Linked DNA regions of Homo sapiens: region 2 is linked to region 1. The links come from fine-mapping of genetic effects on gene expression. Tissue or cell type: visceral fat. Region 1 holds a variant in brackets; the other region holds the start of a gene. All regions are shown on one strand. Distances are from middle to middle.

Region 1 (8,111 bases):
CAGGGTGGTCTCAAATTCTTGACCTCAAGTGATCCACCCGCCTTGGCCTCCCAAAGTGCTGGGATTAAAGGTGTTAGCCACCACACCCGGCCTCTGTATAGCCTTCTTGATGCCTTTAGAACAAAAAAAAAAATGTCTGATTGTCACCTATTTGAGGATACAGACCAAACCTACCACAAGAAGTACCACAATCAAATATATATACACACATATATATGCATTTACATATATTTCACAGAATTTTCTATTGGCTAGTGAAATTTATTGTGCTATAGGAGAGTCAAATCAGGAGCTTTTTATATGGGTGCCATGAGAAATTGAACTTAATCTAACCTTACTGAGGACTGTTGACAAATGTGACTAATTGTATGTGCTAGATAGTGTTGGACAACTGTAGGAAGTGCTGACAAAGACTTATGAAGAACAAAATGCCAGTAAGCCTGATCAAGAGGTGTGGAAAACAGGATGTCAGAGTAAGCTCAACATAGCTACTGATGCAAACTGAATAATTGCTTACCGTCTACTGAAAGTGCAATGATGAACTGTAGGTTATAAATAGATCTGAATATCCATCATAGCTTTGTAGCCATTTGCTGACTTCTTATAAGAATTCAGGTTTTTTTTGTGTTTTTTTTTTTTCAATAACAAGCTTAGCTAATTCTATGTTTTTGTTTTGTTTTGTTTTGTTTTGTTTGAGACGGAGTCTCGCTCTGTCGCCCAGGCTGGAGTGCAGTGGCGCGATCTCGGCTCACTGCAAGTTCCGCCTCCCAGGTTCACTCCATTCTCCTGCCTCAGCCTCCCGAGTAGCTGGGACTACAGGCGTCCGCCACCACGCCCAGCTAATTTTTTGTATTTTTAGTAGAGACGGGTTTCACCGTGTTAGCCAGGATGGTCTCGATCTCCTGACCTCGTGATCCGCCCGCCTCGACCTCTCAAAGTGCTGGGATTGCAGGCGTGAGCCACCGTGCCTGGCCAACAAATTCTATGTTTATTAGTTATGAATTTGCCTATTCCTTTGGGCTTTGATTTCTCCCTACCCAACCCACCCGCCCCCAGTGTTAAATAAATATCATTATGACTGCTGGTTTGGAAATGGGCTCAAATTCCCTGTTCTGCAACTAGCGGAAATATCAGATAAGTTTTAAGCTCTCTGAGTTTCAGTTTTCTCATTTGTAAAATCAGAATGATAATAGCTACCTTGCAAGATTGTTTTAAGGATTAGAGGTGTTTGTGTAAAACCTCTAGTATATATTTCTTAATACTCAGGTATTCCATAAATGAAAGGAACGCTGTTTATTATGTTAAGTCAACTACAGTTTTTGGTTTTTTAAGACAGAGTCTCACCCTGTTGCCCAGGCTAGAGTGCAATGATGTGATCATAGCTCATTGAAACCTCAAACTCCTGGGCTCAAACTATTCTCCTGTGCCTCAGCCTCCCAGATAGCTGGGACTGCAGGCATGAGTCACCATGCTAGCCTAATTTTATTTTTAGTAGAGACCAGGTCTCTCTATGTTGCTCAAGCTGGTAACTGCCGGACTCAAGTGATCCTCCTGCCTTGACCACCAAAATGCTAGGATTACAGGCATGAGCCACTGGGCCTGTCCAATTATAGGGTGTGTGGTTTGTTTTTCTCTTTGTTTCTTTCTTTTCTTTTTTTTTTCCTGTTGTTGTTGTTGTTGTTGTTGTGGTTTTTTGAAATGGAGTCTTACTCTGTAGACCAGGCTGAAATGCAGTGGCACGATACTGGCTTACTGCAACATCTGCCTCCCGGGTTCAAGCGATTCTCATGCCTCAGCCTCCTGAGTAGCTGGAATTACAGGCACCTGCCACGATGCACAGCTAATTTTTGTATTTTTTAGTAGAGACGGGGTTTCGCCATGTTGGTCCGGCTGGTCTTGGACTACTGACCTCAGGTGATCCACCCGCCTCGGACTCCCAAAGTGCTGGGATTACTGGCATGAGCCACTGTGCCCGACCTTTCTTTCTTTTTCTTTTTTTTTTTTTTTTTTTTGGTATGGAATATGTATCACCATTTAAAATGAAAGTTGAGGCCGGGCGTGGTGGCTCATGCCCACAAATAAATAAATAAATAAATATTTAAAAAAATACCTGGGCATGGTGGCACACACCTGTAATCTCAGCTACTCAGAAGGCTGAGGCAGGAGAATCGCTTGAAGGTGGAGGTTGCAGTGAGCCGAGATCACGCCACTGCACTCCAGCATGGGCAACAAGAGCCAAACTCTGTCTCAAAAATAAATAGCCAGGCGCGGTTGCTCACCCTGTAATCCCAGCACTTTGGGAGGCCGAGGTGGGCGGATCACGAGGTCAGGAGACTGAGACCATCCCGGCTAAAACAGTGAAACCCTGTCTCTACTAAAAATACAAAAAAATTAGCCGGGCATGATCTCACGCGCCTGTAGTCCCAGCTACTCGGGAGGCTGAGGGAGGAGAATCGCTGGATCTTGTGAGACGCAGGTTGCAATGAGCCCAGATCGTGCCACTGCACACCAGCCTGGCGACAAAGCAAGACTCCGTCTCAATACATAAATTAATAAAAATAAAAATAAATAAAAGTTCAAAAGACTTACTATGGAATAAATGCTTCTGGTACAATAAGTATAGATGGAGGTTACAAAATCTGATAGATTTTGGGGGCCCAAATATTGTCATATTTATATGTCTCATCTTGGAGGGGAGAGCCATCTTGCAAGTATGAAGGTACAGAGCCAATGTACCAAGGAGGGTGGGAGGAGGGTCCCACCTCCTAATGAAATTGCTGAACTGCTCTAATAAAATTAGAAATATTTTTCTCCATACTTCCTGGTTCCACACTTCTCCTGTTTATAAAGCTACTTTTAGCAGTGTATTGTTACTTGAAGCTGAGTGCACACTACCTGACGAAAAAATTTAGTCTTAAGACTGAATTTTTTAAAAATTAATTCTTAAATTTTTCTTGTTTTCCACTACATATTATAGGAAAAAAAAAGAAACTCCGTTATATATATTATATATATTTCCATATATATAATATATTTTATATATATTCCCATATATATAATATATTTTATATATATTCCCATATATATATTTCCATATATACAATATATATTATATATATTTCCACATATACAATATATATTATATATATTTCCATATATATTATATATATTTCCATATATTATATATATTTCCATGTATATATTATATATATTTCAATATATATATTATATATATTTCAATATATATATTATATATATTTCCATATATATAATATATATTATATATATTTCCATCTATAATATATATTTCCATATATAATATATATCATATATTTCCATATATATAATATATATCATATATTTCCATATATGTAATATGTATCATATATTTCCATATATATTTATTATATATATATTTCCATATATTATGTGTTATATATATTTCCACATATATAATATATAATATATATTTCCATATATAATATATATTACATATAATATATATTTTATATAATATATTATATATTTCCATACACATAATATATAATATATTTCCATATATAATATAATATATATTTCCATATATAATATAATATATATTTCCACATATAATATAATATATATTTCCTCATATAATATAATATATATTTCCATATATAATATATATTTCTATATATAATATAATATATATTTCCATATATAATACAATATATATTTCCATATATAATATATTATATATATTTCCATATATAATGCAATATATATTTCCATATATAATATATTATATATATTTCCATATATATTATATATCTGCCATATATGTATATATAGACATATATACATTTATGTACGTATATGTATATATACACATATATACACATATGTATATACAGATATACGCATATGTACATGTATGTATATACACACATATATACACATAGTACATGTATGCATATACACACATATATACACATAGGTACATATATGCATATACACACATATATACCCATATGTATATATACACACATACACATATGTACATATATGTATATATGCACGTATATACGCATATGTACATATACATATATTACCATACATATATGTATATATACATATAGTACATATATTATACGTATATGTATAATTTATTATATTATTATATTAATGAATTAATTAATTCATTCATTAATATATTAATATATTATTATATTATACATATACGTATAATATATGCATATGTATATATACATATATTACATATGTACATATGTACATATACACATGTATACGTATATATGTGTATATATACATATATTACATATGTAATATATGTATATATGTACATATATGTATACATGTGCACATATATATTACATATGTACCTATATGTATATATCTGTATGTATACATATATAGTGGACATATATGTGTATATACATACACATATATAGCGGATATATATGTATATATACATGTACATATATATAGCAGAGATATATACATACACATATATATTTATATTATACTTTAAGTTCTGGGATACTTGTGCAGAATGTGCAGGTTTATTTCATAGGT[A/G]TACACATGCCATGGTGGTTTGCTGCACCCATGAACACGTCATCTACATTAGGTATGTCTCTGAATGCTATCCCTCCCCTAGACCCCTACCACCTGACAGGCCCTGTTGTGTGATGTTCCCCTCCCTGTGTCCATGTGTTCTCATTATTCAACTCCCACTTATGAGTGAGAACATGTAGTGTTTGGTTTTCTGTTCCTGTGTTAGTTTGCTGAGAATGATGATTTCCAGCTTCATCCATGTCCCTGTAAAGGACATGAACTCATCCTATTTTATGGCTGCATAGTATTCCACGGTGTATATATGCAACACTTTCTTCATCCAGTCTATCATTGATGGGCATTTGGGTTAGTTCCAAGTCTTTGCTATTGTGAATAGTGCTGCAGTAAACATACGTGTGCATATGTCTTTATAGTAGAATGATTTATAATCCTTTGGATATATACCTAGTAATAGGATTGCTAGGTCAAATGGTATTTCTGGTTCTAGATCTTTGAGGAATTGTCACACTGTATTGCACAATGATTGAACTAATTTACACTCCCACCAACAGTGTAAAAGCATTCCTATTTCTCCACATCCTTTCCAGCGTCTGTTGTTTTCTGACTTTTTAATGATCGCCATTCTAACTAGTGTGAGATGGTACCTCATTATGGTTTTGATTTGCATTTCTCTAATGACCAGTGATGATGAGCTTTTTTTCATATGTTTGTTGGCCACATAAATGTCTTCTTTTGAGAAGTTTCTCTTCATATCCTTTGCCCACTTTTTGATGGGGGTTGTTTGTTTTTTTTCTCGTAAATTTGTTTAAGTTCTTTGTAGATTCTTGATATTAGCCCTTTGTCAGATGGATAGATTGCAAAATTTTTTCTCCCATTCTGTAGGTTGCCTGTTCACTCTGATGATAGTTTCTTTTGCTGTGCAGAAGCTCTTTAGTTTAATTAGATCTCATTTGTCAATTTTGGCTTTCGTTGCCATTGCTTTTGGTGTTTTAGTCGTGAAGTCATTGCCCATGCCTATGTCCTGAATGGCATTTCCTAGGTTTTCTTCTAGGGTTTTTGTGGTTTGGGGTTTTACATTTAAAGTTTTAATCCATCTTGAGTTAATTTTTGTATAAGATGTGTGGAAAGTGCCCAGTTTCAGTTTTCTGCATATGGCTAGCCAGTTTCCCCAACACCATTTATTAAATAGGGAATCCTTTCCCCATTGCTTGTTTTTGTCAGGTTTGTCAAAGATCAGATGGTTGTAGATGTGTAATGTTATTTCTGAGGCCTCTGTTCTGTTCCATTGGTCTATATATCTGTTTTGGTACCAGTACCATGCTGTTTTGGTTACTGTAAACTTGTAGTATAGTTTGAAGTCAGGTAGCGTGATGCCTCCAGTTTTGTTCTTTTTGCTTAGGATTGTCTTGGCTATGCCAGCTCTTTTTTGGTTCCATATGAAGTTTAAAGTAGTTTTTTCCAATTCTGTGAAGAAAGTCAATGGTAGCTTGATGGAGATCACATTGAATCTATCAATTACTTCAGGCAGTATGGCCATTTTCATGATATTGATTCTTCCTATCCATGAGCATGGAATGTTTTTTCATTTGTTTGTGTCCTCTCTTATTTCCTTGAGCAGTGGTTTGTAGTTCTCCTTGAAGAGGTCCTTCACATCCCTTGTAAGTTGTATTACTAGGTATTTTATTCTCTTAGTAGCAATTGCGAATGGGAGTTCACTCATGATTTGGCTTTCTGTTTGTTATTGGTGTGTAGGATTGCTTGTGATTTTTCCACATTGATTTTGTATCCTGAAACTTTGCTGAAGTTGCTTATCAGGTTAAGGAGATTTTAGTTTGAGATGATGGGGTTTTCTAAATATAAAATCATGTCATCTGCAAACAGAGATAATTTGACTTCCTCTTTTCCTACTTAAATACCCTTCATTTCTTTCTCTTGCCTGATTGCCCTGGCCAGAACTTCCAATACTATGTTGAATAGGAGTGGTGAGAGAGGGCATCATTGTCTTGTGCCATTTTCAAAGGGAATGCTTCCAGTTTTTGCCCATTCAGTATGATATTGGCTGTGGGTTTGTCATAAATAGCTCTTCTTATTTTGAGATACATTCCATCAATACTTAGTTTATTGAGAGTTTTTAGCATGAAGGGGTGTTATATTTTGTCAAAGGCCTTTTCTGCATCTATTGAGATAATCCTGTATTTTTTGTCATTGGTTCTGTTTATGTGATGGATTACGTTTATTGATTTGCCTATGTTGAACCAGCCTTGCATCCCAGGGTTGAAGGCGACTTGATCATGGTAGATAAGCTTTTTGATGCGCTGCTGGATTCAGTTTGCCAGTATTTTATTGAGTATTTTCGCATGGATGTTCATCAGGGATATTGGCCTGAAATTTTCTTTTTTTGTTGTTTATTTGCCAGGTTTTGGTATCAGGAAGATGCTGGCCTCATAAAATGAGTTAGGGAGGAGTCCCTCTTTTTCTATTGTTTGGAATATTTTCAGAAGGAATTATACCAGCTCCTCTTTGTACCTCTGGTAGAATTCGGCTGTGAATCCGTCTGGTCCTGAGCTTTTTTTGGTTGATAGGCTATTATTTACTGCCTCAATTTCAGAACTTGTTACTGGTCTATTCAGGGATTCGACTTCTTGGTTTAGTCTTGGGAGGGTGTACGTGTCCAGGAATTTATACATTTCTTCTAAATTTTCTAGTTTATTTGTGTAGAGGTGTTTATAGTATTCTCGATGGTAGTTTGTATATCTGTGGGATCAGTGGTGATGTCCCCTTTATCATTTTTTTATTGTGCCTATTTGACTCTTCACTCTTTTCTTCTTTATTAGTCTGGCTAGTGGTCTATTTTGTTGATCTTTTCAAAAAACCAGCTTCTGGATTCATTGATTTTTTGAAGGGTTTTTCGTGTCTCTTATCTCCTTCAGTTCTGCTCTGACCTCAGTTATTTCTTGTCTTCTGCTAGCTTTTGAATTTGTTTGCTCTTGCTTCTCTAGTTATTTTAATTGTGATGTTAGGGTTTCCATTTTAAATCTTTCCTGCTTTCTCCTGTGGACATTTAGTGTTATAAATTTTCCTCTAAACCCTACTTTAGCTGTGTCTCAGAGATTCTGGTATATTGTGTCTTTGTTCTCATTGGTTTCAAAGAACTTATTTATTTCTGCTTTAATTTTGTTATTTACTCAGCAGTCATTGAGGGACAGGTTGTTTAATTTCCATGTACTTGTACGGTTTTGTGTGAGTTTCTTAATCCTGAGTTCTAATTTGATTGGACTGTGATCTGAAAGACTGTTTGTTATGATTTCTATTCTTTTGCATTTGCTGAGGAGTGTTTTACTTTCAATTATATGGCCAGTTTTACAATAAGTGTGATGTGGTGCTGAGAAGAATGTATATTCTGTTGATTTGGGGTGGAGAGTTCTGTAGATGTCTATTAGGTCTGCTTGGTCCAGAGCTGAGTTCAAGTCCTGAATATCCTTGTTAATTTTTTGTCTCATTGATCTGTCTAATACTGACAGTGGGGTGAAAGTCTC
Region 2 (8,111 bases), 44 kb before region 1:
TCTTCTGGGGGCCTTGTTCTCATCATGTCCTAAAGATCTTTCCATTCCCAACCAAATAAAAAGTAAATCAATGTTTAAACCATCTTTCAAAGCCTAGCACTAAATACATTGCAAAGTATGCAATGATGCTATCTGTATACTTTGTCTTAGGCTAAGCATATAAGAAGGGGAAAGAGAGAATGGGGGAGAAGATAACTTTTCACTCAGCTTTCCAATGTTTTTAAGAAAATCTCCTAAGGGCTAGGTGCTTTCCTTTCCCTCTATCTCAATGGTGCAGGAAGAGGAAGGCCCCTGGTCAGATACAAAAGTTTGTGGCAGTAAAAAGGTAAACTGGACAATCCTCCTAGATGACCAAAAGCTCTCCAAGAAAAACAAACATGGGCACAAGGAAGAAAACCAGGTCTTACTGATCCTGTTATCTTTTACTTTCATAACCTCACTGCCAGAATCTCAGCACTTCTTAGCCTGATTATACGACAGTCAAGTTCCTGACCAAGTCTGAGACACTGCAGCTGATTCAGTGCTGAGGTGTCACCATCAGGGGAAAGAACTCCAGCTATCCCACAATGGTGAGGGAATTGTGTTTCTGACATCCTGATATGGAATTGTAAATAAAATTTCCTACCAAAACACTATAATATCCAATGTATACATTCTATTCCATGCATCAAGCTCACTCCAAATCAAAATCCATTTTAACCCCTAAGGGTTAAATTGGAAACTGTGATGTGTGATGTGTGCTATTATCCATCACAGTTGGGACAGACAGGAGAGAATGTTTCATTTCAACTGTGAGGGTGGGGATGTAACCCTGGGAAAACCTCTTCCAGGTAACATATAGCTTGAGTAGGAGCTTCAGTGAAAATGTATTCAGAAAGGAAAGAACTTTTGGAATATGCCCATTGAAGACAGCATAAACTCCTAGATTTCGCCAGACCCTGATCACCTAAGTGACACATCAGAGATGTGCAGAAGATAGAAGGTTCCTGGCTGGTGAAAGTCTAAAGCTGTCACAAGGAAGGCAAAGTACGCAGACCACCTATTCAAAAAGCCCAGCCTGGGGATAACTAGAAAGGCATATTCAGACCAAGGTATATATAAATGGAGGATATGCCAGGCAAAGGAGAAAGATATGCACAGGAAATGGAAGAATTTGTGCAGAATGTATACTGCAGAGGATTCCTGGGATGGTGTAGGCAGAGGTAGAGTCAAACCTTTATGTGAGCCACTGCAACTCAACCTAAGGCAATCTTGGTTTTTTAAGCTATAAAATGGGGCTAAAAATTCCTTTCTTGCAGGAGTTTTGTCAGGAAGATTAAATAAAATAGCATATGAGAACACACCAAAAATCAGAGTGGGTGCCAAATAGGAGTTCCATGCTTCCTTCACCTTCTCAATAAGCATCACCTAAAATGCATACTAAACAGATCTCTGGTCACCACTCCTGGATGGAAGCACAATTTCCATGGAAGCCATCTGGCAGTCTGCATGGTTAGCAGATGATGCTTATCAGGGAAATGCGGGAAACATGGCATTACTCACGTCTTCTCCCATAAGGTTCCACATGATGTGGAACACAGAAATGTCTCCAACAGAAGAAAACTGCTGTGAAATCCAGTCGTCTGCCACTGAATGAGAACACCTACGATTTACAATTTCACAGGAGACAGACTAATGTTTTTAAATGGTATGTCTCTTAATGGTATTATTCTGTCAATACTGTCTATTCTTGAGCCTCAAAGGTTTTTTATTATTATTATTGATATAGGGCATAAGAACAAACTATCTCCAACAAATCTACTGAAATGTAGTCAAAATTGCAGTCCCATTTTACTGCACCATGTAAACAACATATGGTGCAATCTGGGACTGAGACATTGTGGAACTATAGTAAAAATACAATTCAAGGAAAGCGACATCACAAGGAATGAAGATCTCCCCTCCCAGTCTACATGACCACAAGAACAGCTTAGGAAACCAGACCAATGCAACACTTTCTAGAAAAATTATCTTCTTATAAGCAAAGTTGCCATTATCCAAAGACCCTCTGTGGAATTTGGCCTTACTCAGAGACAATAAACTAAATAACAGTCTAAGGGCATCGTTTTTCGCAGATCTTGGTATGAAAAGCGTTCTTAGTGAAACAAAAAGGAAGCAACATAAACCAACTTGCAAATGTCAAATCGGCATGCTTTCAAACGGAAAATAACCTGGCAGCCTGAGCAGATGTTCCCAAATATTTAACATCTCCCTGTAAATAAAAAGACAGTTTTATGGTCTGCAGCTAGGTGAGGAAGATTGAGGACCGGAAAGTCAAACATTCGGGCTAGCCTAAAAGAGGTGGCCGCTGGAGACCCGAAGAGTTACGAGGTTCAAAGGTCAGCGTGGACACGAGACCACAGACCACGAGGAGCTTTCAGCAGATCTACAGTTTCCTTAACTATCCACCTACTCACAGCACCCAGCTGGTCCTCGTAAGGCAAATGGGACTTACGACTTTAGACTCGGTGTGATTTCTGATACACTAGCAGTCACCACGTTATTTTCATCCCTACCCCCACACACTGTTTTTAAACATTACCTTTCAACAGCAACCTCTTCTCCCCCTCCTGCTCCTCCCCACTGTCCCCGCCAACCCTCGCTACTGAAAAATCCTAAAAGAAGGTGCTTTGGGTTTGTTTTTGGTTTCTGGGCGTCGCTTTTTATAGGTTTTCTTTTAAGCCAAAATAACAGCACACAAGAAAGAGGCTTGAGATTGCCGGGATCTCCGGAGCCGGCGGCCTCAAAATGACAAGTTGCTTCTCCCTTATCTTGAAAATTAACAGCAGCCCAAACACTGCAATTTACTCACCGTCCTCCTTTCTCCTAAACTGCCTCGGAGCTTGTTTTGTTAGGTCTAGTTCCATTGTGGAGGGAAAAAGGGTTTCTCGAAAAACTTTATACGGTAAGAGACCAGAACCTTCCAGACCCCTCAACCCTCCTCGCGTACAGACCCTTTTACAAGAAAACAATAGTGAACGAGGAGCTGGACACTCCTCTTGGCTTCCCAATTGCACAACCTCGCCGGCGATTCGACAAAAGAGGGTCCCAGAGCAGATTCTCTCGGCCCCCACGGCTCCTGGGCTTACCCGCGAGGCTGCGCGTCCCTCCCGCCCTTCACTGGGGCTCCAGGATCCCCGGGTGCCCTCTCGGCGGTGGCTGCGGCGCACGCCGGCTGGCTCGCGGGTCCCAGCGCCCATGGTCCCTTTACGCCTCCGCACGCCACCTCCTTGGTGCTGGCAGGATATGTGGAGGGGCAAACAGCGCTCCGTGTCCCCACCCCCAACCCTGAGCCTCAGAGGCTGCAAAGCCGGAGGGTCGGGGCAGCACAGACCCCAGGCCGCCCGGACCCCGGCCCAGACCGGTCTTCCCGCACCCCCAATTTCCCTCACCCGGGCAGTGCAAACCCGCAGCGAAGCCGGCCGGCAAGAGTGACCCGCCGAGGCCCAGGAGCGACGACCGCAGAGGCGCACCGGGCTCCGAGACCTGAGGGGCCGCTGCTCCAGCCGGCTGCTGCCTCTCTCGCGGCGCCTGCCACATCGGGCCGCAGAAGCCCGAGGCCGGCAGAAACCAAAGGAAGGTGGCGCGGGCCAGGGGCGGCGCGGGCACGATTCCTTCCCCGCGGATCTGGCGGGGGAGCAGAGGAGGGAGCAGCCCTGCCCGGAGTCTCAGGCTCCCGCCAGCCCCAATCCCGGGCGACTGCGCCGAGCGCCTCCGGAGTCGCGGGAAGCTCCTCCTGCTCCGCGGCTGGCGCCAGTTGCACGGTGGCCGCCCCCAAATTCGAGGAGGAAGGTGCAAAGTGGTGGGAGGCTGCGGGTCTCCCGGAGGGTGAGGCGTTGGGGACCAGGCGGGAGCACAGCCGAACCCCTACCTTTCGGGCGGGGCGGACACCAGCCGCGCGCCCTCGCCGGGCGCCGGGACCGGAAAATCACCGCGAAGGGAGGGACGAGGAAAGGCGGCGGGTGGCTTCAGGACAAGGTAGGAGGATCGATTTCCACAGCCAAGAAGACACTCCCATCCCGCCCTGGTTTGTTTGGAAAGCTGCAGGAGCTAAAGTGAGGGGTGGCCGGGTACTCCCCTTCCCCGCCCGGCTGGCAGGCGGCAGAAGTAAACACTGAGGCTTGTGGCGCCGCGGACTGACTGTGACACAAGGCTCAGCAGAAGGTTTGGTCCCTATCAGAAGGGGAGGAGTGTTCAGAGAGCTCCTGAATTCCGGGGCTCTGCCCTTCAAGGGCAAATGTGTTCGTACTTTTTATCTTTTGAAGGAGATAAATTACTTTAGGGAGAACGAAGGTGGAACGTGCTGTTTGCGTTTTCTTTTCTCTCCATAGGCAAAACCCTACGTTATTAATGTCCTCTTACTTGGATGGCTCTGAATACTTTTTAAAGTGTGTTTGTCAAATAATTCCTTGTCTAGAAACATTCAAGTCATAGCTCCAACCTTTGGGCCCTGAGCAGTGTAATCACGTGCCATCAATTGACCCCAGAGAGAAGACCCACGGACTTGGATGTAATTCAAAGTTGGCAATGTGTCACGAACTGGAACAAAGTCCTTCATCTGTGATGGGCTTTCTGGTATTTGTCCTTTTTTTTTTTTTTTTTTTTGAGACAGAATCTTGCTTTGTCACCCAGGCTGGGGTACAGGGGCATGATCTTGGCTCACTGCAACCTCTGCCTCCCAGGCTCAAGCGACTCTCCTGCCTCAGCCTCCCGAGTAGCTGGGATTACAGGCTGGGATTACCACTCCCAGCTAATTTTTGTATTTTTAGTAGAGATGAGGTTTCATTATGTTGGCCAGGCTGGTTTCGAACTCCTGACCTCAAATGATCCGCTCGCCTCCACCTGCCAAAGTGCTCTGGTATTTGTCTTAATTGTAATAACAGCCCTAGGAGGTATCATTTGTTGTTTTCCCAACCTTACTTTAAAAAAAAAATGGCCGGGCGCCGTGGCTCACACCTGTAATCCCAGCACTTTCGAAGGCCGAGGCGGGCGGATCACGAGGTCCGGAGTTCCAGATCAGCCTGACCAACGTGGTGAAGCCCCGTCTCTCCTAAAAATACAAAAATTAGCCGGGCATGGTGGTGCGCGCCTGTAATCTCAGCTACTCAGGAAGCTGGGGCAGAAGAATCGCTTGAACCCAGTGAGCTGAGATGGCGCCACTGCACTCCAGCTTGGGCGACACAGCGAGCCTCTGTCTCAAAACAAACAAACAAACAAACAAACAAACAAAAAACTCAATGGGTTCAGATAATTCATATTCTTTGCCCTTTCTACAGATTGCCTTTGACATAACCCACACAGATTTTGTAATTTTAAACGTGGCTCTTGAGACATCAGGATAGTGAAAGAGTTTTAGGGAATTTGTCTATCTGAACTAATTGGTGTTGAGGTTTACTTTGCTCTTTTAATTTCTCCTGGGTTCTTCACTGACCCCTTGTTCATGATCTTAAAAACTAAAACTGTATTTCACCTCATCCACTCTGGCCTTCTGGACTTCTTGAATCTGCAAAGCAGTGTGCTAAGGAGAGAGGCTATCTGCTGTTCTGAGGTGACGTTTGTATTTCATATTTGGTAGTGGCCAGTAGTGACTACTGTTGACCCCAACCTAGTTCAAAAGCTACCTCTTCTGCTGACCTGCTGTGTGACTTTGGGCAAGTGGCATTACCACAGTGGGCTTCATTTTTTGTCAGGTGTAAAGTGAGATAATACAGCTAGTCTTGAAGGGTGATTAGGATTAAAACAGTCTCTGTTGTAAAGAAGGCTTGGCACAGTGCTTGCCCCCAAAACCATCAATTCAGGAAGTAAAATGTTGACTTTAAAAATAACGCTAAAAATATTAACTACCAGTCATTGCCCACCATGAGTCAGCCACCCACCATGCATTGTATCTGTTCCTCTCACTCACCCTGCAAGCCAGTCATGGTAGAAAGGAAGGAACAGAGTCAGGTGGTCTAGGGCTGTGCTGCCTACATTGGAGCTGTGACTCAAAGGAAAGCACCTGAGGCCAAAATCATTGTTCTTTCTGAGATATCACTGCTATGTAACTCTCTGTGATGGGAGGGGCTTTTGATCAGTGTAACATTAATTTTTAAAAATTCAAGATATATTATTGTATGGGCACATGATTGCTATTATATAAATATTTTATATTCCTGTGGAAACTGACAAAGGCTTAAGTAGGGTGATGGAATTAAAAGTTTTTAGTCCTCTCTGGGTTAGTGTTTTTGGTCATTGTTTTGGAGAAAATACCCTCCCAATATATGTATATTTAATTTGGCCTTTTGGTAGAAGATTTCTTCTAATAAGCTGGGAGGGGAAAAGCCACAAAGAAGGAGAGGACTCTTGGGACATGCAAGGTCTTTCAAAGGCCCCTAAAATTATAATTTTCAGGCAGTGTACATATAGGGCTGGCCCTGTTTTACTAGGTTTGTTTTTTTTATTATGGTGGTGCAGTCTCTTTAAAATAAATGCTATTGTTTCATAGACTGTCGCCTCTGCGCACCAGTGACAGGTAGAGGCCAGGTTCCCCACATTACCATGGGAGGCCATTCAGCACTAAATGTGCAGTCTAGAATAGACCAAAGTATTTCCTCCTCATCCCCATTGTAGGGCCTGCCTTCTAAATTCTCCTGTTCTGTGCCAAGTACAGCCTTTTCTGCCATGACTGATGGCAAGAATGTCTACTCCTTGTAGGAGAGACCTACTCATAAGGGTGTGCTCTCAGCAAGACAATCAGATCAGATCATAGTAAGTGAACCCCAGGACTGGAGATACCTATAAAGTGACATGAGGCCACTTTCTTACAACATCCTCTTAGAATAATTTTTAAAACTTTAAATTTTTTTTTCTTTTACAGTACATGATGTTCAAAAGGTTTCTTTTTAAAAACAGTTTTCAAGGTCGAGTTCAATTTTTTTTTTTTTTAATTTGACACATTGGTCAGAGAACATTGAGTTCAATTTTAAACACCATCTAGCTCATGACTGAGCTTGACCAAGCTAATCGTTTTTACATACAATCCTTCCTCCAACTCAAGGAGAAAATCCTGCCAGTGCAGTCTTCTGGCTGTCTTGGAGTTTTATCTCCTATAAGCAATTATTTAAAGAACATGTGCATCTCAAAAATAATAAGCCACAGTAGGTCGGGCGCGGTGGCTCACGCCTGTAATCCCAGCACTTTGGGAGGCCGAGGTGGTTGGATCATGAGGTCAGGAGTTAGAGACCAGCCTAACCAACACGATGAAACCCCGGCTCTACTAAAAATACAAAAATTAGCTGGGTGTGGTGGCGCACGCCTGTAATCCCAGCTACTCAGGAGGCTGAGGAAGAAGAATTGCTTGAGCCTGGGAGGCAGAGGCTGCAGTGAGCCGAGATCCTGTCACTGCACTCCAGCCTGGGCTACAAGCGAGATTCCATCTCAAAAAAAAAAAAAAAAAAAAAAAAACCCACAGTGCCTAAGCAGTATAAATCCTGACTTACAGCTATGACTGTCCACAGTGTAGAAAATGTATCACATTAGCAAAAAGCAGTTTAGTTGCATTAAGCAGAGTCATACTTCTCCAAAATCTCTATTTCAGACTAGAGTCTCAGCTACATTTTTGCATATGTAAATATCCATTGTGATGATTTTTCCAGTATTGTGATTGTACAGAAAAGGAAGTCAAGTCTACCAGGAAGCTTATTTGCAGCTTCATAAATGATGACATCCTCATATTCTACCAGTTTTGTCAAAGTTTCAGGGGTCTTCATTGCTCAGTCTCTTTTACCACAGGCTGGAAGGTGAGGGGAGGTGGGATGGTGTGACTGGCGATAAGTTCATCCCAAACTCCTGAACATGTAGAACATCTGTACAGTGGAAACCGTAAATAGGGCAACTGACAGAAAATAATTGCAATGTATTTTTTTTAAAGGGAGAATATCCAGAATATGTTAAAAAAAATGCCTATGGATCAGTACCAAAAAAAAACCCTATTTTAAAATAGAACACAAGCCATAAACAAGCAATTCGTACAATAAATACAAGGGCCAGGTGCAGTGGCTCACGCCTGTAATCCCAGCACTTTGGGAGGCTAA

Evidence for each region. PIP is the estimated chance that this variant, and not a neighbour inherited with it, causes the effect.
Region 2: ST3GAL6-AS1 starts here. The variant in region 1 is fine-mapped to the expression of ST3GAL6-AS1 in visceral fat (GTEx, PIP 0.90).

The regions. Positions count from the first base shown.
Region 1 is chr3:98,684,415-98,692,525 of GRCh38, reverse strand. No RefSeq gene overlaps it. Among named protein-coding and RNA genes, the nearest start is that of ST3GAL6-AS1, 44 kb to the left of the region's middle. The variant A/G (reference allele first, on the strand shown) is at 4,576.
Region 2 is chr3:98,728,332-98,736,442 of GRCh38, reverse strand. ST3GAL6-AS1 (ST3GAL6 antisense RNA 1) reads left to right here and starts at 3,792. Exons shown (of 5, transcript NR_046683.1): 1 at 3,792-4,017. It also overlaps a transcript of ST3GAL6 not described here. RefSeq lists enhancers at 2,830-3,577, 3,578-4,326.